Homo sapiens: one gene and its partners. The protein of the gene in region 1 purifies or fractionates together with the protein of each later gene. This does not show direct contact. Each region holds a gene or a part of one and is shown in the gene's direction. Other genes may lie near its edges. The genes, in order: USP3, REST, HPN, LRP1, TEAD4, SACS and MAGEA10.

Region 1 (3,500 bases):
TGCCAGGTGCTCTACACATTATTTCTCTTCCTTATAATAGTTCTTCAAAGTAGGTATTATTTTTTGTCTCCAGTTTGCAATTGAGAAAGGTTAACTTTTCTAAGGTCGTATAGCTAATAAAGCTGAGATTTTAAACCTGGGTCTTTTTTCTACAGTACATTGCCTCTACAAAAGGCATCTTGTTTTAATGCTGCCAAAATCAATTTGTTTAGATTGTCTTCGCAGTTTTACCGACTTAGAAGAACTTGATGAGACAGAGTTATATATGTGCCATAAATGCAAAAAGAAACAAAAGTCCACAAAAAAGTTTTGGATTCAAAAACTACCCAAGGTGAGTGTTGAATTTTGAGTTATGAAGCAATTTCAATGGGAAAGTGCTTGACTGCTAAGACCATGTCTATAACTTTACACTATGTGAACTGTTCTGTATTTTTCTCTAGGATTTTCAGTAAAAGCTAAACCCCTTACAGAATGAATGCATAAGGTATGCATGGAAGAATGATTGATAGGGCAGCTAAAATGTTATTTACTGAACTGATAGTAGTATCAAACTTTGACTGAAAGGTAAATTAGGTGTTCACAATCTTTGACCGCATCTCTGTCCTCCAGGTGCTATGCTTACATTTGAAAAGATTTCATTGGACAGCATATTTAAGAAATAAAGTTGATACATACGTAGAATTTCCACTGAGAGGCCTAGACATGAAATGCTACTTACTAGAGGTAAGGTGGTTACCTTTTTAGCATGGTGAAAAAATGGCTCTTCAGTAAGATTGTCATCACATGGAGAGGGTAGAGGTCATCGAGATACTGATGTCATTGACCACTGCTCCTTCTTCCTTGTTCTGTAGCCTGAGAACAGTGGCCCGGAGAGCTGCCTGTATGACCTCGCCGCTGTGGTGGTGCACCATGGTTCCGGGTGAGTACAACAGCCAGCTTCTGGTGGGTGGGAATACCTGGTGGCCAGCCCAATGACCTGCAGTTTTGTACCACTCTTGCTAGTTCTTCCTAAAAAATGGATTCAGATAAAGTAGGTGAAATTTCCTTCAGTTTTGGTGCGGAAGAGTACTCCTCAGATGATGTTGTGAAGGCTTAAGGGAAGGTAAATAAAAGTGAAATGAAGAATGGTTCATTTGAACCCAGTATTTACGACCCAGTCTTTATTTGTCCACAAACTCCAAAGTTGCTTATTCGTTTACCAACTGAAATTTAAATGGGGCAAAAGGGGAAATTACTTGGAATAACTTACTCCATATCATCTACTTTAAAGACTCATTTTAAGTCTTGTTAAAAAACATTAATTTTTTCCCCTGAAAGTTTGTATGAGGGGTCTAACCTTCTGGTTTTTGGTTTGAGAGTGGCTATTTTACCTTCAAACTTAAGACTACTATATGTGGGCAGACGACTATCCATGTTGAAAATCCTTTTCCCGCAGAGCTGTGATAAAGTAACGTCTACACTCACATAGTGTTATGAATGACAAGTCTGATTCTCACTACTTTACAGGCACCTGGCTTTTTTCTCCTTGGAGTGTATTCCTGCTTGGTAGTTGGTAGGGACACTTTTAATTTGGTGCCTTCAGCTCATGAAACTCTCTATACTGTAGGTCTGAAATCATTTGTTCTCTGTACCCCTATTATATGCATAGTGAATTTCCTGGATCTCCCTTCCACATGTCTTAAATACTCTAATGATTTCTGTCTGTGTTTCTAAAGACTGCCATGGCCTACTTTTCCAAATCACCAATTTGGGTTTCATCTGTATCCAAATAAAAGATAAGCTCCTCCATAAAATATTTATATTAAATCAGTCACATTTTTCTGACAACTTTTTCGTAACAGCCTATTCTTGTTTTATGATTGCACTATCTTTTTGAAACTATTAGCACTAATTTAAAAATGTAAAGTTCTCTTAGGTTTTCTGCATTCAATTCCTCAGGGTTGATTGCCTTGCTTGTTCTTCCCGGTATTTCTTTCCCCTCAAAAATGTGATTTTGTAGGCGTGCAAAAGGCTTGTTTTTAAAATTTGGTTTTGGTGGTTTATTTGGAATCATAGTAAATGATGAGATGGATCTTTATTATTTAAATAGGGTTTTCCTGGCACCTACAAAGGTCTGTTCTAGCTGCAGGCCTTCCGTCTGACTTGGAGGACTGACTCCAGGGTTGTGTGTGTGAGTGGGTGGGTCATGCTGATAGGGTAGAGCCCCTGATGACCACGGTGTCAGGGAAGGGTGCCCTTCTTTGTTAAGCTTAGTTTTTTCCTAAGATTCTGATGGGAAAACCTGGTACCTAGTTTTCCATGTTTCCGTAGGCTTTGACCTGTGCTTGTTAGGTTGCGAGTTCCTCATCTCTGTTTTCTCCATTAGTCCAGGGCCATCTGCTTTGTGTTCTAGCAAACCCTCGATTTCTGGTCAGTTTGGAGGAAGGTAAAAACATTAATTTAACAAGCATCTTAAATCAAAAGTCTAGGATGTATTCTTATTAAAATTTAAATCTAACATTATATAGTTGTACAGGTCTTTTTGTGATTTCTGAGGTTCTTTTTTCCTTTGGTCTTTTGCCTTTACAGGGTTGGTTCTGGACATTACACAGCATACGCAACTCACGAAGGCCGCTGGTTCCACTTCAATGACAGTACTGTAACACTGACTGACGAGGAGACTGTGGTGAAGGCGAAGGCCTACATCCTTTTCTACGTGGAACACCAGGCCAAAGCTGGATCGGATAAACTTTAATACCTCCTCCAAATCATCATTCACCAACCATACCAGAGAAACATTTCCAGTTTTCCACAAATACTTGATACAAGATTTAATTTCATTATGCACTTTTCAATTTCCTATTTTGGATTTAGTTTTGTCAATGGTAGTGACTTACTGAACATGGGCACCAACTAATTTTGTTGTTGTTCTACCAGAAAACCTCAGCAGATGTTTTGATTTGCTGCTTTAGTTGTAATAATTCAATTTTTATAGGTAGTTGTAAGAACTTAGTCTTATTTGACTTTTTTATTTTATGTTAATGTTTTCAGTTCTCACTTTGAGGCACATTTACATCAATGCTTTTGTTCCTCTCACATGCTGAAAGCAAGATGTGTTCCTTATTGTGAAGAGCGACACAACTGCCTGCTGCCTTTCCACAGCTATAATGGACATCAGGTTGACTCTAAATCAAGGATCATGTGTGCACAATACTTGTGGCCCACAAAATTTCACAATGACTGCTGAGGAATCATTCTTTTTGCCTGTAAAATATAACAAAGGGCATCATTAAGTAGACCAGGTAATTACTGCTTGTCTCTCAAGGCTGCTGTCTTTATCAGCACTAACTAAATAAATTTGTTGGTTCAGTTGTACTTGTCCTGCAAATACAAGAATTACTCTCTTTGTTGGTTTTTTTGGTTTTGGGGCATACTTGTTTGCGGGGAGGTAAGATGGGAGTAAAGACCAAATACATGTAATGTTTAAAAAAAATGCTGTGACTCACTGACATGGTATAGGT
Region 2 (2,223 bases), on another chromosome or scaffold:
AATTCTAGGCTCCGACAATCATTGTCAACAGAAGATCAAGCTGCAAATATTTATGTTTTAAAACTTAAATTATAAAGCTAGTTAAGTCTTTCTAATGACTAGTTTTAATGTTCATGGGTACATTTTACCTAAGTTACCGTTTACATTGTATAGAAAAAGATACATCTTAAGCACAGATTGGTTATTAGGAATTAGTTTGGGGAAGAGGTTTTTTTGTGGATTCTTTCATACTGCAAAGAAAAACCATTTGCCTTTTGGGGAATTGAGCTAACTTCTAATCTAGTCTTAAGACTAGAATGCTAAAAACAAAAACATGAAGGAAATTAAAACCCCTTATTATTAAATTGATTTGTAAAAACATTGTTACTGGAAATTTATTGGACTTGAGGCCTTCCTCCAGAAAATAAGGACTTGATTGTCAGGCCTATATTAGGTTCTGAACCTTAATGCCATGTATTTGTACTTACTAAAAATTGTTTCAATGAAAAGTACATTAGCAGTATGAACTTCTGGTCCAGTTGGAAGTTTTTCCATTTGAAAAATGTGATGTTTGCATGGAACTGTTTGAAACTTTTTTATTTTCTAGTCCCCCTCCCCCACACTGGATAGAATTTAGCCTAGAATTTTCCCTTTGGATAAAAGAACAAAAATTGAACATGTTATTTGTAAATTGATGTTTAGTAATTAGTGATAAACTTGAAATACTAGCATATATTATAAGCCTTAATCTTAGGTAGTCTTATGAAAATGAATCTCTTAACTATCTTTTGAACCTGTATTCACATTGGTTTTCAAGATATTTTAAGTTATATTTTTTCCTCTTTTCAGAGCTGCTTCTTATTCTGGGGCTACTTTTTTTTTTAGTTGTGTAATTCACAAAGGGCTGCATTTTTTTTTTTTTTTAATAAGGCTTATAACTATGGCTGGATCTTTTGCTCTAGTCTTCTAAGAAGGGCCATTTTATTTTTTAGAGTCACTTCTAAAGTCATGTGGTAATTAACTTTGGAGACTGTTTTGCGTATGAGTGCTGATACAAATTAAAACCCAAGTAGACCTCATTGCATGTCACCCTATGAATGTTGACAATGGAAGGAATACCTTGCCTGTAGTATACTGTCACTTCTGGATTGATAAGCTGAGGAAGAAAGTTAAGTTTCTTTTTTACATAAGTCAGAAAAACTTACAGCTGGTGTTCCTAGTTTCCTGGTTGACCTCAGCAGATGAAGTGAACAGATAGTGTTAATTCAGATTGAAGAAATTATCTGAATCTTGGTTTGTGTAGATTTACAATCTACATGCAATATTAACTAAATCAGATAGCTTTTACAGTTTCACATGTGTACATAGGTTCCCTCCCGGTCCCTTCCATATCCATTAGTTATTGAACTTTCTAAACTGGCATTGAAACATTACAACAATGTTTTGTTGCACCAATTTTATAAACTTAAGCAGTGCAATACGTGTTACTTTTCTGAGGCAAACCAAAGGTAAATTTCTCAAGGTTCTTGCTGCCTTCTTTAGCAGCATTTGATGGAAGATCTTTTATACATTTGTAATAGATAAAAATAAACCAGATTGCAAATCCTTTTTTAAAATCCTAAACCATGTACCAAGTTTTTGGTCCAAATTATGTAGGATAAGTTAAACTTAAATTGCATTCTATTAACCAATATGAGTGTATTTCTGTAAGCATAGTTATGTTGAAATAAAGTTTTAAAAACCATGATGCCTTTGTTTATTATTGGTATATCCAGAATGTAGGAAAGCCAAATTTATGTTGCTGGAACTGCAAGTGTATTAATAGGCTTTTGAAGATTATTTCTCAGGCTGGGCGCAGTGGCTCACGCCTGTAATCCCAGCACTTTGGGAGGCTGAGGCAGGTGGATCATGAGGTCAGGATTTCAAGGCCAGCCTGGCCGACATAGTGAAACCACGTCTCTACTAAAAATACAAAAATTAGCTGCGTGTGGTGGCAGGCGCCTGTAATCCCAGCTACTCGGGAGGCTGAGGCAAGAGAATCGCTTGAACACAGGAGGTGGAGGTTGCAGTGAGCCGAGATCGTGCCATTGCACTTCAGCCCAGGCGAGAGTGTGAGACTCTGTCTTTAAAAAAAAAAAAAAAAAAAGTATCACAGGTAGAAAAGTCACAGCATGTTGTCTGAGGTAACAGTCCAGTATGGGTAGTAACCCAAAGCATACACTGCTTGATGGGAGGTGCGGGAGA
Region 3 (3,500 bases), on another chromosome or scaffold:
AACAAATTTGTTCTTCTATTTTCCATATGCTGTCTGTGTACGTATAAAGTGAGAGGTCTTTTTATATGAGTTAAGGGTGTGACCAAAGACAAATGGAAAAAGACAAATGACAAACATACTAATAAAGAGCTTCGGTTTCTCCACAAAAAATACAATAATAAAATAAAATGTTATCAGAAATCTCTTGACTCTCCTCCACGTTAGCTCACTTTTTCCCTCAAGAGGGTGAACATGACCCTTAACAGATCCAGCCTCAAGTGCTGGATTCTCTTGGGAACTTGGTTAAATGGTTTTTTTTCTTCCCGAATGTCCAAGTCACCTTCCAGACCTGCAGCTCCTGAGCAGCCAACTTAGGACTTCTAATGGAGAGTGAAGTTCCCCTGGTTCGCGGAGGGGCCGGCCACAGCCTCAAGGCTGCTGTTGATTGGTCCGACCTGAGTCCTTGAGTCTGGCAGAGTGCCATGGTGCTCTGTAATCCCACCTGTAATCCCAGCATTTTAGGAGGCAGAGGCAGGAAGATTGCTTGAGCCTAGGAGTTCAAGACCAGCCTGGGCAACATAGCAAGACCCGTCTCTACAAAACAAAACAAAACAAAACAAACAAACAAAAAAATTAGTCAGGTGTGGTGGTGCACGCCTGTGGTCCTAGCTACTCAGGAGGTTGAGGTAGGAGGATTTCTTGAGTCTGGGAGGTCAAGGCTACAGTGAGCCAAGATCACACCACTACACTCCAGCCTGGGCAACAGAGCGAGACCCTGTCTTTAAAAAAAAAAAGTCCTTGAGTCATGATTCCAGATGCAATCGCAGATGTGGGGGCTGCAACCCTCCGATGGGCTGGGGTTCACGTCTACACCACATGGCTGGAGCACAGGCCAGGAGGGGCTCCGGCTGGGGAAGCATGTGGGGAGCCTGGCTGTGGGACCCAGGCGGCCCCGGGCCCTGTCGCCCTGCAGTGCAGGTCAGCTCTGCGGACGCTCGGCTCATGGTCTTTGACAAGACGGAAGGGACGTGGCGGCTGCTGTGCTCCTCGCGCTCCAACGCCAGGGTAGCCGGACTCAGCTGCGAGGAGATGGGCTTCCTCAGGTACTGGGGGCCCTCGGAGGGGTGGGAGCCGGGAGGGGCTGGGGAGCAGGCCTAACCCCTGCCCCGCCCAGGGCACTGACCCACTCCGAGCTGGACGTGCGAACGGCGGGCGCCAATGGCACGTCGGGCTTCTTCTGTGTGGACGAGGGGAGGCTGCCCCACACCCAGAGGCTGCTGGAGGTCATCTCCGTGTGGTGAGGAGGGCAGCGGGCAGGTGGGGCAACACCTCAGACCCCCAAGGCACTCCCTCTCCCCGTTTTCCTTCCACCTGTCTTAACTGGTCTCTATTTCCTTTCTTTCTGTGTCTCCAATCCCATCTCTCCCAGTGATTGCCCCAGAGGCCGTTTCTTGGCCGCCATCTGCCAAGGTGAGATCCTAAAACTCAGAACCCTCTCCTTTAGGCCCTTGGGGAGGCCACGTCCCCTCAAGCTCCCCAGGATGGGGCCATGTACTTTCAGACCCCCTAGGGCAGGGCCAAGCCTGGGCTCTGGGGACCTGGGCTCCAGTCCCCTGTCGCCGCCCCCTGCTGACCCTTGTCCCACAGACTGTGGCCGCAGGAAGCTGCCCGTGGACCGCATCGTGGGAGGCCGGGACACCAGCTTGGGCCGGTGGCCGTGGCAAGTCAGCCTTCGCTATGATGGAGCACACCTCTGTGGGGGATCCCTGCTCTCCGGGGACTGGGTGCTGACAGCCGCCCACTGCTTCCCGGAGTGAGTGCCCCCCAATGGCGCTGATGATGGGGAGGCAGAGGAGCGGAGAGACAGTGGGGAGGAGGGCGGATTGTGCCCAGGCAGGTGGCCACCCTCCACCCCTTTCCCTGGTAGGCGGAACCGGGTCCTGTCCCGATGGCGAGTGTTTGCCGGTGCCGTGGCCCAGGCCTCTCCCCACGGTCTGCAGCTGGGGGTGCAGGCTGTGGTCTACCACGGGGGCTATCTTCCCTTTCGGGACCCCAACAGCGAGGAGAACAGCAACGATATTGCCCTGGTCCACCTCTCCAGTCCCCTGCCCCTCACAGGTAAGTCTAAGGGCTGAGCCATGGGGCTTGAGGACCCGAGGCCAGGAGGACAGAGGAGGGGACCAGGGGCACAAGGCAATCAACTTATGGCTCAGGCATCCTTGGCAATAAGGGGAATGATCTCGAGGGAGCACAAAGTGGGCCTTAACTATCAATGATCAGTGCAGCCAATTTGGAAAATTTGCCAGCATTTCCCCAAGAAGTATACATAAAGTTACCATTGGACCCAACACTTCCACTCCCAGGACAGGAGGTATATACCTAAGACAAATGGAAACTGTGTCTGCACCAAAACTCGTACATCAGTGTTCATAGCAGCATTATTCATAATAGCCCAAAGATGGAAACAGCCCAAGACTGTTTCATCGGACAAATGCATAAAGAAAATGTGGTATATTGACCGGGCGCGGTGGCTCATGCCTGTAATCCCAGCACTTTGGGAGGCCGAGGTGGGTGGATCACGAGGTCAGGAGTTTGAAACCAGCCTGGCCAACATGGTGAAACTCCATCTCTACTAAAAATACAAAAATTAGCCTGGCCAACATGGTGAAACTCCATCTCTACTAAAAATACAAAAATTAGCCTGGCCAACATGGTGAAACTCCATCTCTACTAAAAATACAAAAATTAGCCTGGCGTGGTGGCACACGCCTGTAATCCCAGCTACTCGGGAGGATGAGGCAGGAGAATCTCTTGAACCCGGGAGGTGGAGATTGCAGTGAGCCGAGATCACACCACTGCACTCCAGCCTGGCTGACAGAGCAAGGCTCTGTCATCTTGAAAATAAATAAATAAATAACAAAAAAAATGTGGTATATCCACACAACGGGAGAATATTGGACCATAGAAATGAATGAGGTACTGATTCATGCTACCACAAGGATGAAACTTGAGAACAGTGCTGAATGAGACAAGCCAGCCGCAAAGGCCACATACTGTAGGATGCCACTTGTATGAAATGTACAAGGCTGGGCACGGTGGCTCACGCCTGTAATCCTGGCACTCTGGGCAGCTGAGATGGGAGGATTGTTTGTGCTCAGGAGTTTAAGACCAGCCTGGGCAACATAGCAAGACCCCATCACTTAAAAAAATGAGCTAGGTGTGGTGACGGATACCTGTAGTTCCAGTTACTCAGGAGGCTAAGGCAGGAGGATCACTTGAGCCCAGGAGTTTGAGGCTGCAGTGGGCTAGGATTGTGCCACTGTACTCCAGCCTGGGTAACAGAGCAAAACCTTGTCTGTTAAAAAAAGAAGAAAGAAAGAAAGAGAAAGAAAAGAAAGGAAGGAAGGAAGAAAAGAAGAAAAGAAAAGGAAAGAAAGAAAAGAAATGTCTAGAATAGGCACATCGGTAGAGATAGAAAGTTGATTGATGGTGGCAGGGTGGGAGGTGGGGATGGGAGATTG
Region 4 (2,690 bases), on another chromosome or scaffold:
ACAGGGCAGTGCTCTGGCTACTGTGAGAACTTTGGCACATGCCAGATGGCTGCTGATGGCTCCCGACAATGCCGCTGCACTGCCTACTTTGAGGGATCGAGGTGTGAGGTGAACAAGTGCAGCCGCTGTCTCGAAGGGGCCTGTGTGGTCAACAAGCAGAGTGGGGATGTCACCTGCAAGTGAGTGGGGCCCTCCTCCACAGTTCCACCCAGCTGGGCCCCTGCCCTGTCCTAGCCCTGCCCTGCCCCTCCCTTCCTCAGCATCCCAGGCACGCCTCTGCCAGCCCCAGCCCCAGCCTCTGATTCCTTCCTGCAGCTGCACGGATGGCCGGGTGGCCCCCAGCTGTCTGACCTGCGTCGGCCACTGCAGCAATGGCGGCTCCTGTACCATGAACAGCAAAATGATGCCTGAGTGCCAGTGAGTTGGGCCCGGGCTTCACCCAGGCATAGATCATCGCTCCCTTCCCCAGATTTGAGCAGGAGGACCGTCAGGCCTCAGTGCCCACCCCCCGCCCTGTTTTCCTGGCAGCAGTGGCTATGGAGGTTATACCTACTCAGCCGTGTCCCTCCTTTCTGCAGGTGCCCACCCCACATGACAGGGCCCCGGTGTGAGGAGCACGTCTTCAGCCAGCAGCAGCCAGGACGTAGGTGGCAGGGGTTGGGGCAGGCAGGGCCACCGGGACCTAGAGCAGGGGGACCGTGTGCCTCCTGCTTCCCTGAGCCTTGGTGACTCAGTGTCCCACCTCTTCCCTCCAGATATAGCCTCCATCCTAATCCCTCTGCTGTTGCTGCTGCTGCTGGTTCTGGTGGCCGGAGTGGTATTCTGGTATAAGCGGCGAGTCCAAGGGTGAGTCACAGGGATTCTGGAACATTCTGGTCATTATTTTGCCATCCTAGCCTTCCCCCCCAATAATCTCTGTCTCCTTATACTCCTGCCTTTCCCCAGGGCTAAGGGCTTCCAGCACCAACGGATGACCAACGGGGCCATGAACGTGGAGATTGGAAACCCCACCTACAAGATGTACGAAGGCGGAGAGCCTGATGATGTGGGAGGCCTACTGGACGCTGACTTTGCCCTGGACCCTGACAAGGTGGGCTGGGAGGCGGGCAGGGTCGAGTGCCAAGAGGCCGTGGGTGGCCTAACCAAAGGTGTTGGGTTAGGTGAGGGACGGAGGTGGGGGTGGGGTAACCTGGGCTACAGGCCCAGCTCCTGAGCCCTACCTGAACCCTCTGTCACCCTGCAGCCCACCAACTTCACCAACCCCGTGTATGCCACACTCTACATGGGGGGCCATGGCAGTCGCCACTCCCTGGCCAGCACGGACGAGAAGCGAGAACTCCTGGGCCGGGGCCCTGAGGACGAGATAGGGGACCCCTTGGCATAGGGCCCTGCCCCGTCGGACTGCCCCCAGAAAGCCTCCTGCCCCCTGCCAGTGAAGTCCTTCAGTGAGCCCCTCCCCAGCCAGCCCTTCCCTGGCCCCGCCGGATGTATAAATGTAAAAATGAAGGAATTACATTTTATATGTGAGCGAGCAAGCCGGCAAGCGAGCACAGTATTATTTCTCCATCCCCTCCCTGCCTGCTCCTTGGCACCCCCATGCTGCCTTCAGGGAGACAGGCAGGGAGGGCTTGGGGCTGCACCTCCTACCCTCCCACCAGAACGCACCCCACTGGGAGAGCTGGTGGTGCAGCCTTCCCCTCCCTGTATAAGACACTTTGCCAAGGCTCTCCCCTCTCGCCCCATCCCTGCTTGCCCGCTCCCACAGCTTCCTGAGGGCTAATTCTGGGAAGGGAGAGTTCTTTGCTGCCCCTGTCTGGAAGACGTGGCTCTGGGTGAGGTAGGCGGGAAAGGATGGAGTGTTTTAGTTCTTGGGGGAGGCCACCCCAAACCCCAGCCCCAACTCCAGGGGCACCTATGAGATGGCCATGCTCAACCCCCCTCCCAGACAGGCCCTCCCTGTCTCCAGGGCCCCCACCGAGGTTCCCAGGGCTGGAGACTTCCTCTGGTAAACATTCCTCCAGCCTCCCCTCCCCTGGGGACGCCAAGGAGGTGGGCCACACCCAGGAAGGGAAAGCGGGCAGCCCCGTTTTGGGGACGTGAACGTTTTAATAATTTTTGCTGAATTCCTTTACAACTAAATAACACAGATATTGTTATAAATAAAATTGTAAAAAAAAAAAAAAAAAAAAAGGCCAAAAAAAAAAAAAAGAAAGAAAAAAAGCCGCTGGTGTCTGCCTGTGTGTGAGAGACGCTGGGAGCTGGGGCTGCGCTTTCCTGCTTCGGCCACCAGAGGGAGACCTGCCCCGTGCTGGAGGCAGGCTGGCGCGTGGTTTTTAGTGCCCTTCTCCCAGGGCCCTCCCCCTCTCCATCTTACTGTGCCCGGGAAGCGGGTGGCACTGGACTTGACATGGAAGATCTGCTTCTCCTGGCTGTGTGACCTTCAGCCATGACTTCGAGTCTCCAGATTTTGTGTTCCCTCTGGGTCTAGGACACTAACTCAGATCTGTTTCTCTGCATTCACTTCTACCAGACACCACCCCCCTACCCAAAATGATCACCCACAGTGAGAAGCCCCACTATAAGAAGTGAATACACTGAGGCTGCAAAGGTTTTCTCATCCTTCAGGGTCCTCCCATGCGGTTCTCTCTGCCTGAGTCTGCTCTTGAAGCACTGACGTCTCACTTTGTGGA
Region 5 (3,500 bases), on another chromosome or scaffold:
CGGTTGCCTTCCTTTTTAAAGCTCCTATTTCGCTGTAGGTATACACCACATTTTGTTCATGCATTCATCCATTGATGGACACTTGGTTTGCTTCTACCTTTTGACTCTTGTGAATAATGCTGCCGCGAGCATGAGTGTACATATATATCTTTGAGACCCTGCTTTCAGTTTGTTTGGGTATATACCCAGGTATTGGGTCATATGGTCTTGCTCTGTCACCCAGGCTGGAGTGTAGTGGCGGGATCTCGGCTCACTGCAACCTCTGCTTCTCGGATTCAAGCGATTCTCCTTGTCTGAGCCTCCCGAGTAGCTGTGATTACAGGTGCCCGCCACCACACCTGGCTAATTTTTGTATTTTTAGTAGAAACGGGGTTTCACCATGTTGGCCAGGCTGGTCTCGAGTTCCTGACCTCAAGTGATCTGCCTGCCTCAGCCTCCCAGAGTGCTGGGATTACAGGCGTGAGCCACAGCGCCCGGCCTGTACCATTTTGCATTCCCACCAACAGTACCCAGGATTTTGCATGCTTTTTGCCCAGGGTCGATTTAATGTCAGTGCATCCCCGGCACTGCATCCTTGTCTCCTACTTTTCAGCCCTTGTCTGGGTTCCTTGATACCAGGGAGTGCCTAGGTCATTGTGCTCATTCGACAGATGGGAAGATGAGCTCTCCAGAGGGGATGGGACCTGTTCAAGACCCCAGGCCTGATTCTCACAGATCTTTCACTTCACGCTTTGCTTCCTGAGCAACTGATTCGGGCTCTGGCACTCCCCGGAGTGCCTTCATCCCGTGGCCCACGCAGTTCTTCCACTGCTCACCGGGGCTGTGGTTCCTGTCCCCACAGGTCCAACGAGCGCTCCTCCAAGCGGAGCCTTGGAGGGCACGGCCGGCACCATTACCTCCAACGAGTGGAGCTCTCCCACCTCCCCTGAGGGGAGCACCGCCTCTGGGGGCAGTCAGGCACTGGACAAGCCCATCGACAATGACGCAGAGGGCGTGTGGAGCCCGGATATTGAGCAGAGTTTCCAGGAGGCCCTCGCCATCTACCCGCCCTGTGGCAGGCGCAAAATCATCCTGTCGGACGAGGGCAAGATGTATGGTAAGGAGCCCGTCGGGTTCAGCCCTGTACCTGAGGCTGAGGCAAGGGGCCGACACCAGAACCTTGGGGTTCCTGCCGGGCCACAGAAGGGGATGACCACTTGGGGCTTTGTCGGGTGGACACTGCTTTCTTCCCTCCTGGGCTCCCAAGGGATGGGGGCATCTGAGGAGAAGCCTGTGAGGGGGTGTGGAGGGTGGGGCCCCTGGCGGTGAGCAGAGATGGGAGTGGGAATCTTGGAAAAGGCGAATCTGGGTGGGGTAGAACATCCCCCCAGAGCAGGTGGGGAGCACCCCACAAGCTGTACCCCAGCAGGTGCCTGACCAGCAGGCTGCCCACCTTGGCTGTGAAGGATGCTCACTCATCCCCTCTTTCCCTCACTCATTCATGCAACAAACAGATGCCGAGCCTTCTGTGTGCCTGGTGTGGGTTAGACGGGTCTAGTCCCAGCCTGTCATCTGGGGTGAGGGTAATGTGAGCTCACAGATACCTGCTCTGCAAGGCAGCCTGGAGAGTTCCTAGGAGAGGCAGAGTGCTGGAGACCACTCCCCTAGGAAAGGCCCCCCCCAACCCAGCAGAGGGTCACCAGAAACGGCTTGATCTTTGTGAGTGGCTGGGGTTGCAGAACACAGCTGAAACTGTTCAGCGATGCATGGGAAGGACCAAGCAGTTGGCATGGGGCCACGATGACTTTTGGATGGAAGAGGGGGCATCTGGAAAAATGAAGCAGGGGCTGGGCATGGTGGCTCACTCAAGCCTGTGATTCCAGCACTTTGGGAGGCCAAGGTGGGAGGATCACTTGAGGCCAGCAGTTTGAAACCAGCCTGGGCAACAAAGCGAGACACCATCTGGAGTAAAAATAAAAAAAATTACCCAGGTTTGGTGGTGCCAGCCTGCAGTCCCAGCTACTGGGGAGGCTGAGGCAGAAAGATCTCTTGAGGCCAAGAGGTCAAGGCTGCATTGAGCCATGAGTGCACTGTTGCACTCCTGCCTGGGTGCCAGAGTGAGGCCCTGTTTCAAAAAAAAAAAAAAAATGAAGCAAGAATAAAAACTGAATGGCTGTTGGAAGGCCCAGATAAGGCTTCTGTTCCTGTTGGAAAGTCCTCTAGGAATCCTAGCTCAAAACAGTGGTCTTGGGGCAGGAGTGAGAGCCCTGAGTGGGTCTCTAAATGGCTGAAGTCAGTGACAACGGGGCCCCTGCCTGGCTTCCAACAGGATGGCCCCAGACCAGCTGCCCACCCCCACGGGTTTCCATTCATTTCTCCCCCACACCCAACGCTGGTGCCACCCCCACCATTGTTGCTTGGCTCGGCTTCCCCAGGGTCGCCCTTACTTCTGGGTCGGCCCTCTAGACTCTCCCTGCTTTGACCACTTCTTGCTCTGATGGTTGCTTATTTTTTCCTTTTTCTTTTCTCTCTCTCTCTTTTTTTTTTTTTGAGATGGAGTTTCACTCTTGTTGCCCAGGCTAGAGTGCAATGGGCGCAATCTCAGCTCAACGCTACCTCTGCCTCCCGGGTTCAAGCGATTCTCCCACCTCAGCCTGCCGAGTAAGCTTGGATTACAGGCACGTGCCACCACTCCTGGCTAATTTTGTATTTTTAGTAGAGACAGGGTTTTTCCATGTTGGTCAGGCTGGTCTTGAACTCCAGACCTCAGGTGATCCGCCCACCTTGGCCTCCCAAAGTGATGGGATTACAGGTGTGAGCCACCGCACCCAGCTTTTCTTTTCTTTTCTTTTGTTTTTGAGACAGAGTCTTGCTCTGTCGCCCAGGCTGGAGTGCAGTGGAGCAATCTCGGCTCACTGCAGCCTCCGCCCCGTGGGTTAAAGTGATTCTTCTGCTTCACCCTCCCGAGTAGTTGGGTCTACAGGCGTGCGCCACCACGCTCGGCTGATTTTACAGGTGTGAGCCACCATGCCCGGCCTTGCATCTGTATTTCTAAATAAAATACTTGAATGTGTTTGTGGCAGTTAAGATAAAATTTGTCTTTAACAGATCCCAAATAACAGTGGCTTACATAAGGGAAATTTCCTTCTCTCTCCTATAAATGTCTGGAGGGTAGGTAGTCCAGGGAAGGTGTGGCAGCTCTGCTCCATGAAGCTCTCAGGGACCCAGGATGCTTCCGTCTTGTGGCTCATGAGCATGCCTTCCATTGTGAATGTTCCCTTAAGGCCCAAGCAGCTGCTTCAGCTCCAGGAGTTACATTGCAGCTAGCAGACAGGAGAATGGGATGAAGAAGAGTGACCTGGATACATTTAAGGAAGACACTGGGAAACTAACCCCTGAAATATTTACTGGCCAGAACTCCTGTGAAGTCCCTTCCACCTCTACTTGTGAAGTTCTGCTTCTTACTTTTAGCGCCTGGGGAAGCGTCATGGGGGAGACAGCTGTGTGTGGAGCACCTGGGG
Region 6 (3,975 bases), on another chromosome or scaffold:
ATGCCAGGAACAAGCAAGGGCTCAATATTTGTGTGCTGAATTAAACTGATTACAACTGAACCATGTAAGAATGGTGGTAGCCTCAGAGAGGCAGCCTCACTCCACAGGCGCATGCCACCGAGGGCCTGTTGGTCCACACGGTGCTACAGTGAGAGCTCAATGAAAAGGCCCTGCAAGACACCATTTCTCCCCAATAGAAATGTGCTTTGTTTGTGATTATTCAGTCCTTTTGTTAGAACAGGTCTCCCACCTATCTCCCAGGAAATAATATGTACACAAATCTGTGAGTCTAGGATGTGAAGGAGACACCATTAGATGTGGCATCTTCTGGGTCAGACCAGTGCAGGGCCAGGTACAAGAAGCAGGGGCTCTCCTTCCCCAGTTGCTGCTGACATTTGGGGCTTGCTTTGGTCTTCTCCCAGGAGAGATCATTTGAGCCTTTTCAGGTCTGGAGTTGTTTGAACTGACTTAAGAGGAATTTTCCGCAGGAACGAAGCAATAAGAAGCTTCCGAGATCCAGTATTTCCAGATAAGCCAAAATTCTAGATTTATATGGATAAAGCAGGCAGTTCTACTAGGAGACTATCATGAGGAATATGATGTACCCAGGCCAGTGGCAGGATAGCTGTGCGCCGAAATGAAATAAATGCTGGTGGTATTTCACATACCCCATCAGAGGAAGCAAGAAAATAGAGTTACAATATTTTGTATTATTAAATTGAGACTAGCAATTTCAACTTAGAACAGGATCAATTGTATAGCATTTCACAGTTTACCACACATTTTGAGTGAATGCTTTTTTTTTTAACCATTGGAACCTCATAAACAACTCCAAATAACATACAAAAAGCAGATTGTGAGCTACAACATTACCAGGTCACAGGTCTTCATTTCCCATGAGGTACTCGAGACCCATGAGTGACTTGTCTAAGGTCACACAACTGGTGTTTAATAGAGCCAGTCTTCTGTTAGCCATACCTACTGCTAAAAATTAGCCTTTGCAAGTGAAGAGAACAAAAACGTGTGGTTGGTTGTCACCCCCACAATGAACGACAATGCTGCACTTGCAGCATTATTGACACCTAAGGTTGATGACAGTCCTGTCTCTTTAAGAAGAAAAAAAAAGGCTGCTGGGTAGGGGGAGCGACTGACTGCGGCAGGAGCCGCCTGGACCCAGTGCGGCTGCGGGACAGTCACGCTGGGAACTGCTGATGGCACTGGAGGAAAACAAAGGCCGAGAGACCCTGATGCCCACAGCCCCCAGTAAGTCCAAGGTTCCAGCTGGGTGGCCAGCGAGGGCAGCTGCAGGAGCGGCCTGGGGACGGGCAGGCTCCATGGTGTTGTTGGCCATCCGTCCCCTGAGCCTTGGGAAACCAGGGCTCGGCCACTGCAGCTGCTTGGGGGAGGTAAGGGGCCACTTTCCTTTAACATACCCGCCTTCGGAGAGGACAGAGACGAGAGGGCCTTCAGCGTGCTGTACAGCTGTGAGTAATGAGCTCTTCTGAAAATGTACAGTTTGGGTTGGCTGCTTGTGAATTTGTGGGTGAGGAGCGGCTGCAGGGTGACTAGAGAGATCTGCCGCGGTCAAGATGCTGGACTAGCCGCTTTGTCATTTTAATTTCCACCCGGGTTGCCAGGCACCGCCACAATGGAGCTGTTGCAGTAACACAGCGTGGGGTCCAGAGTCTTATTGAACAATAAGATGGGATTCTCAAAGTAGCTTACGGTTAATTTGCAGAATTGCTCTCACTTTAAACAGCATGCCTTCAAACAATGCCATATGTTATGGTTATCTTATATAATATTTGAAAATCCTGCTTTTAGTTAAAAAATATTTCACATATTTAATTTTATTCTAATAAGCGATCATTAGATTCTTTGAAAGAGTATTCCAGCTTTAGCAACAAAACCTCTCTCTCGCTGTCTTTTTTTCTTCCTTAAAACGAGGTCAATACCTCAGAGAAGAGGACTGGATTTGTTTCTATTAAAACATATCAATTGTTTTGGCTTTAATCTTAATTCTCTCTGCCCCTGAAGATGGATAAAGCCCATTCCGCTTAAGTAAAAGGCAGAAGCCAGGTTGAATCCACGTGCTTCCCAAGCGCAAGCTGCTCTGAAGTTATTTTGAAGGGGAACTCTTCATTTCTCCATCAGTGCAGATAAAAGTAATTGATTCACAGGTCATGGATGAAAATAATAATAATAATAATAAATAATTGACAATCCCATTTTATTTGTCACATGACAAGTAGATTTGCCATTCTGTTTTTCTTAAGCTGCCCATTGATAACCAGACTCATTCTACGTTAATGCAGGGTCATGATGTCCCAGTAGTTTTACTTATGACCATCCAGACTGCCTTCCCTAATCTTGCCCTGAAGCCTCACTTTGGGCTGTGACAACGATCCCCAGTTTCCTTTCCTCTATCCTCCTTAGCCGTCCCTTTCATCCTTTCTTCTCCTTCCTGGGCTGTTTGGGCAATTTTTTCTTTCTTTTCTCCTTGGATCTTAAAGACTCCTTCAGTCTCCCTTTCAAACAAAGCAAGCCAGATTTTCTACATACCCTATTTTCCTTTAATCTTACTTGGTTTATAAGAACTTTTCCACGATTAAGTGTTTTCTATTCTTCACATAATAGGAAGAAAAGTCCAATTATAGAACTTGAAGACCAAGGTTTGCTTACATCTGAAGCATCTCAAAACCATTGCTTTACGCAGGACTTGCCCCCAGAAGCCCCGGGTTCCAATCTCAGGTCTACCACATCCTTACTCTGCAGCCCCTGACAATCCACATAACTTCTGTGAGCCTCAGTTCCCTCCTGTGTCAGAGATGACACAATTATTCACTTAATGGTCACAGGGTTGAAACCAGGTGATTTGTATGAAGGCGCCTAGCAGGGTTCTTCACACAGTGTCACTATTTAGTAAGAGTTTTGTCGTTTTCTCACTCAGTCCACCATCTACCTAACCACCATGGTGAAGCATGCTAAAGTGGTTCATGCACCATTTCCCAAAAGGAATAAATTTTGAAATGAACTTTTGGCTGAGTGCATCTGAATGAGTCCTGATCAGTACAAAATACATATTCAGTTCTTGCTATGCACGAAACACTGTTCTAAGCCCTCTTGTCTATAAAAGGAACGCTGATGTTTCCATGTTGCCATAGGAGTATTCTTTGGAAGAAGGAAGGCCGATTCTCTTTGTACAACTCTTCCTAAATCCTTTAAGACAGCAGCAGTGATGATGATATTGACCACTCCCACCATGAGCCTACATGAGGACTACTAAATGTGATTGATGCAGAGGATGCCAAATTGGAAGTCAGGACAATTCCCATTGCTATTCTGATCTTGGACAGCCTGGGTGGCAATTTGCTCTTTGCAATGACAATCCTGTTACTATTTTAATTTCTACTTTATGTGTCTTTCTCCTGCCGTCTTTCCTTTCCTTAACTCACACTCAGGATATTGTGTAAGATTTTAACGTCTAGGAGAGGCCGTTTCACCCCTACCTAAGGGGGAACATAGCGAAGTTGGGAAAAGCACTGGATTGGGGACCAAAGGGTGTGGCTCCAGCCCTGCTTTGACTTCTCTTTGTGCTAATTAGAAAGCCTTTTAACGCCATCTCTAAGGCAAGAGACATAGAATAATCTTTCAATTTCCTTCAGGTTCTGACTAGATGATTCAGATAGCTCTCTTTGGGGTAGCCTCAGTTTACAACAATTATTTGATCAAATTAAATGCTTTTATCTCATTGATTCTTACAATAGCCTTATGAAACAGGCAGCCCCATTTTGCAGATTACAAAATGCAACCTTAAGAGAGAGTAGAACCCCAAGTATTTCTTATTAGTAAAAGGAGAGACTGACTAGATGGTAAGACTCGATTCCCTTGGGGAGCATCACTGAGTTCTCAGACTGAACTCTGAGCTCTGTTCCTACCATGGTATCCCCCTCAAGGCACTTCAAATTGACGACG
Region 7 (2,768 bases), on another chromosome or scaffold:
ATCTTCAATCCCAAAGTGAGACACAGGGCCTCGAGGGTGCACAGGCTCCCCTGGCTGTGGAGGAGGATGCTTCATCATCCACTTCCACCAGCTCCTCTTTTCCATCCTCTTTTCCCTCCTCCTCCTCTTCCTCCTCCTCCTCCTGCTATCCTCTAATACCAAGCACCCCAGAGGAGGTTTCTGCTGATGATGAGACACCAAATCCTCCCCAGAGTGCTCAGATAGCCTGCTCCTCCCCCTCGGTCGTTGCTTCCCTTCCATTAGATCAATCTGATGAGGGCTCCAGCAGCCAAAAGGAGGAGAGTCCAAGCACCCTACAGGTCCTGCCAGACAGTGAGTCTTTACCCAGAAGTGAGATAGATGAAAAGGTGACTGATTTGGTGCAGTTTCTGCTCTTCAAGTATCAAATGAAGGAGCCGATCACAAAGGCAGAAATACTGGAGAGTGTCATAAGAAATTATGAAGACCACTTCCCTTTGTTGTTTAGTGAAGCCTCCGAGTGCATGCTGCTGGTCTTTGGCATTGATGTAAAGGAAGTGGATCCCACTGGCCACTCCTTTGTCCTTGTCACCTCCCTGGGCCTCACCTATGATGGGATGCTGAGTGATGTCCAGAGCATGCCCAAGACTGGCATTCTCATACTTATCCTAAGCATAGTCTTCATAGAGGGCTACTGCACCCCTGAGGAGGTCATCTGGGAAGCACTGAATATGATGGGGCTGTATGATGGGATGGAGCACCTCATTTATGGGGAGCCCAGGAAGCTGCTCACCCAAGATTGGGTGCAGGAAAACTACCTGGAGTACCGGCAGGTGCCTGGCAGTGATCCTGCACGGTATGAGTTTCTGTGGGGTCCAAGGGCTCATGCTGAAATTAGGAAGATGAGTCTCCTGAAATTTTTGGCCAAGGTAAATGGGAGTGATCCAAGATCCTTCCCACTGTGGTATGAGGAGGCTTTGAAAGATGAGGAAGAGAGAGCCCAGGACAGAATTGCCACCACAGATGATACTACTGCCATGGCCAGTGCAAGTTCTAGCGCTACAGGTAGCTTCTCCTACCCTGAATAAAGTAAGACAGATTCTTCACTGTGTTTTAAAAGGCAAGTCAAATACCACATGATTTTACTCATATGTGGAATCTAAAAAAAAAAAAAAAAAAAGTTGGTATCATGGAAGTAGAGAGTAGAGCAGTAGTTACATTACAATTAAATAGGAGGAATAAGTTCTAGTGTTCTATTGCACAGTAGGATGACTATAGTTAACATTAAGATATTGTATATTACAAAACAGCTAGAAGGAAGGCTTTTCAATATTGTCACCAAAAAGAAATGATAAATGCATGAGGTGATGGATACACTACCTGATTTGATCATTATACTACATATACATGAATCAGAACATCAAATTGTACCTCATAAATATCTACAATTACATGTCAGTTTTTGTTTATGTTTTTGTTTTTTTTTAATTTATGAAAACAAATGAGAATGGAAATCAATGATGTATGTGGTGGAGGGCCAGGCTGAGGCTGAGGAAAATACAGTGCATAACATCTTTGTCTTACTGTTTTCTTTGGATAACCTGGGGACTTCTTTTCTTTTCTTCTTGGTATTTTATTTTCTTTTTCTTCTTCTTCTTTTTTTTTTTTTAACAAAGTCTCACTCTATTGCTCTGGCAGGAGTGCAGTGGTGCAGTCTCGGCTCACTGCAACTTCCGCCTCCTGGGTTCAAGCGATTCTCCTGCCTCAGTCTCCTGAGTAGCTGGGATTACAAGTGTGCACCACCATACCCGGCTAATTTTGTATTTTTTAGTAGAGATGGGGTTTCACCATGTTGGCCAGGCTGGTCTCAAACTCCTGACCTCAGGTAATCTGCCCGCCTCAGCCTCCCAAAGTGCTGGGATAACAGGTGTGAGCCACTGCACCCAGCCTCTTCTTGGTATTTTAAAATGTTGTTACTTTTACTAGAATGTTTATGAGCTTCAGAATCTAAGGTCACACGTTCGTTTCTGTTTATCCAGTTTAAGAAACAGTTTTGCTATTTTGTAAAACAAATTGGGAACCCTTCCATCATATTTGTAATCTGTAATAAAATAACATGGAATTGGAATAGTAATTTTCTTGGAAATATGAAAAAAATAGTAAAATAGAGAAAATAATTTTAAGTGTTAGTATTTTTATTTCTTTATTATTTTTAGTTTATCATCCTGCAAAATTAAAAGTTATATCCCTGGATCTTGTTAAGTCGAAATTAAACTGTAATAAATGAAACCTTTGCTCACTAGTGCATTTTTTCCCCAAACATCCACTGAGCATCTGGTCTGTGGAAGGCCCTGGGTCTGTAGTGGAAATGTTAAGCCAGAACCACCTTTACCCATAGGGTGGTAGAGTCTAGGGGCTGCAGTCAAGTAACAAGGTGGCAAGATGTCCTCTAAGACCCAGAAGAAAAGTAAGACGGGGTGAGGGTATTGGGCTGTAGGTGAGAGTGGTCACGTACATCCTCTGAGCCAGGACTTTTGGGGCTTTGAGAAACTGCAGTTCCTTCTGGTGAAGATGAATCCAAAGAAGCTGGGTGGTGCCAGGGTCAGAGCCTCACATAGTTGACAGAGCAAATCCTGGGATGTAAAACTGCTCTGAGCAGTTCCTTTTGGGTGGTGGATGAACAGAGAGGAGTCCACCTGGGGCAGGAATGGAAGGTGTTCTGCACTCTTGTCTCAGTGCAGTTGAACTCCTAATTAAATTAAAAAAATAACTAGGTGATAGATACCCAT

The links.
Region 2: the proteins of USP3 (region 1) and REST purify together in Homo sapiens (affinity purification with western blotting; one study listed by BioGRID). This does not show direct contact.
Region 3: the proteins of USP3 (region 1) and HPN purify together in Homo sapiens (co-immunoprecipitation; one large-scale study listed by IntAct). This does not show direct contact.
Region 4: the proteins of USP3 (region 1) and LRP1 purify together in Homo sapiens (affinity purification with mass spectrometry; one large-scale study listed by BioGRID and IntAct). This does not show direct contact.
Region 5: the proteins of USP3 (region 1) and TEAD4 purify together in Homo sapiens (affinity purification with western blotting, with the first as the bait; one study listed by BioGRID). This does not show direct contact.
Region 6: the proteins of USP3 (region 1) and SACS purify together in Homo sapiens (affinity purification with mass spectrometry; one large-scale study listed by BioGRID and IntAct). This does not show direct contact.
Region 7: the proteins of USP3 (region 1) and MAGEA10 purify together in Homo sapiens (co-immunoprecipitation; one large-scale study listed by IntAct). This does not show direct contact.

The regions. Positions count from the first base shown.
Region 1 is NC_000015.10:63,588,093-63,591,592, forward strand, and holds part of USP3 (ubiquitin carboxyl-terminal hydrolase 3), read left to right. Parts: exon of another isoform or gene 1-212; coding exon 213-331; exon of another isoform or gene 332-609; coding exon 610-723; exon of another isoform or gene 724-851; coding exon 852-919; exon of another isoform or gene 920-1,008; intron 1,009-2,568; coding exon 2,569-2,734; 3' UTR 2,735-3,500. UniProt on the Homo sapiens protein: Deubiquitinase that plays a role in several cellular processes including transcriptional regulation, cell cycle progression or innate immunity.
Region 2 is NC_000004.12:56,934,122-56,936,344, forward strand, and holds the end of REST (RE1-silencing transcription factor), read left to right. Parts: 3' UTR 1-1,723; downstream 1,724-2,223. UniProt on the Homo sapiens protein: Transcriptional repressor which binds neuron-restrictive silencer element (NRSE) and represses neuronal gene transcription in non-neuronal cells.
Region 3 is NC_000019.10:35,058,721-35,062,220, forward strand, and holds part of HPN (serine protease hepsin precursor), read left to right. Parts: intron 1-338; exon of another isoform or gene 339-952; coding exon 953-1,082; intron 1,083-1,153; coding exon 1,154-1,276; intron 1,277-1,408; coding exon 1,409-1,449; intron 1,450-1,626; coding exon 1,627-1,792; intron 1,793-1,906; coding exon 1,907-2,097; intron 2,098-3,500. UniProt on the Homo sapiens protein: Serine protease that cleaves extracellular substrates, and contributes to the proteolytic processing of growth factors, such as HGF and MST1/HGFL. Plays a role in cell growth and maintenance of cell morphology.
Region 4 is NC_000012.12:57,211,172-57,213,861, forward strand, and holds the end of LRP1 (prolow-density lipoprotein receptor-related protein 1 preproprotein), read left to right. Parts: intron 1-4; coding exon 5-179; intron 180-315; coding exon 316-417; intron 418-578; coding exon 579-643; intron 644-755; coding exon 756-846; intron 847-945; coding exon 946-1,090; intron 1,091-1,243; coding exon 1,244-1,384; 3' UTR 1,385-2,190; downstream 2,191-2,690. UniProt on the Homo sapiens protein: Endocytic receptor involved in endocytosis and in phagocytosis of apoptotic cells. Required for early embryonic development. Involved in cellular lipid homeostasis.
Region 5 is NC_000012.12:2,993,897-2,997,396, forward strand, and holds part of TEAD4 (transcriptional enhancer factor TEF-3), read left to right. Parts: intron 1-841; 5' UTR 842-870; coding exon 871-1,096; intron 1,097-3,500. UniProt on the Homo sapiens protein: Transcription factor which plays a key role in the Hippo signaling pathway, a pathway involved in organ size control and tumor suppression by restricting proliferation and promoting apoptosis.
Region 6 is NC_000013.11:23,430,903-23,434,877, reverse strand, and holds the start of SACS (sacsin), read left to right. Parts: upstream 1-1,175; 5' UTR 1,176-1,263; exon of another isoform or gene 1,264-1,484; intron 1,485-3,975. UniProt on the Homo sapiens protein: Co-chaperone which acts as a regulator of the Hsp70 chaperone machinery and may be involved in the processing of other ataxia-linked proteins.
Region 7 is NC_000023.11:152,132,810-152,135,577, reverse strand, and holds the end of MAGEA10 (melanoma-associated antigen 10), read left to right. Parts: coding exon 1-1,067; 3' UTR 1,068-2,268; downstream 2,269-2,768. UniProt on the Homo sapiens protein: Not known, though may play a role in embryonal development and tumor transformation or aspects of tumor progression.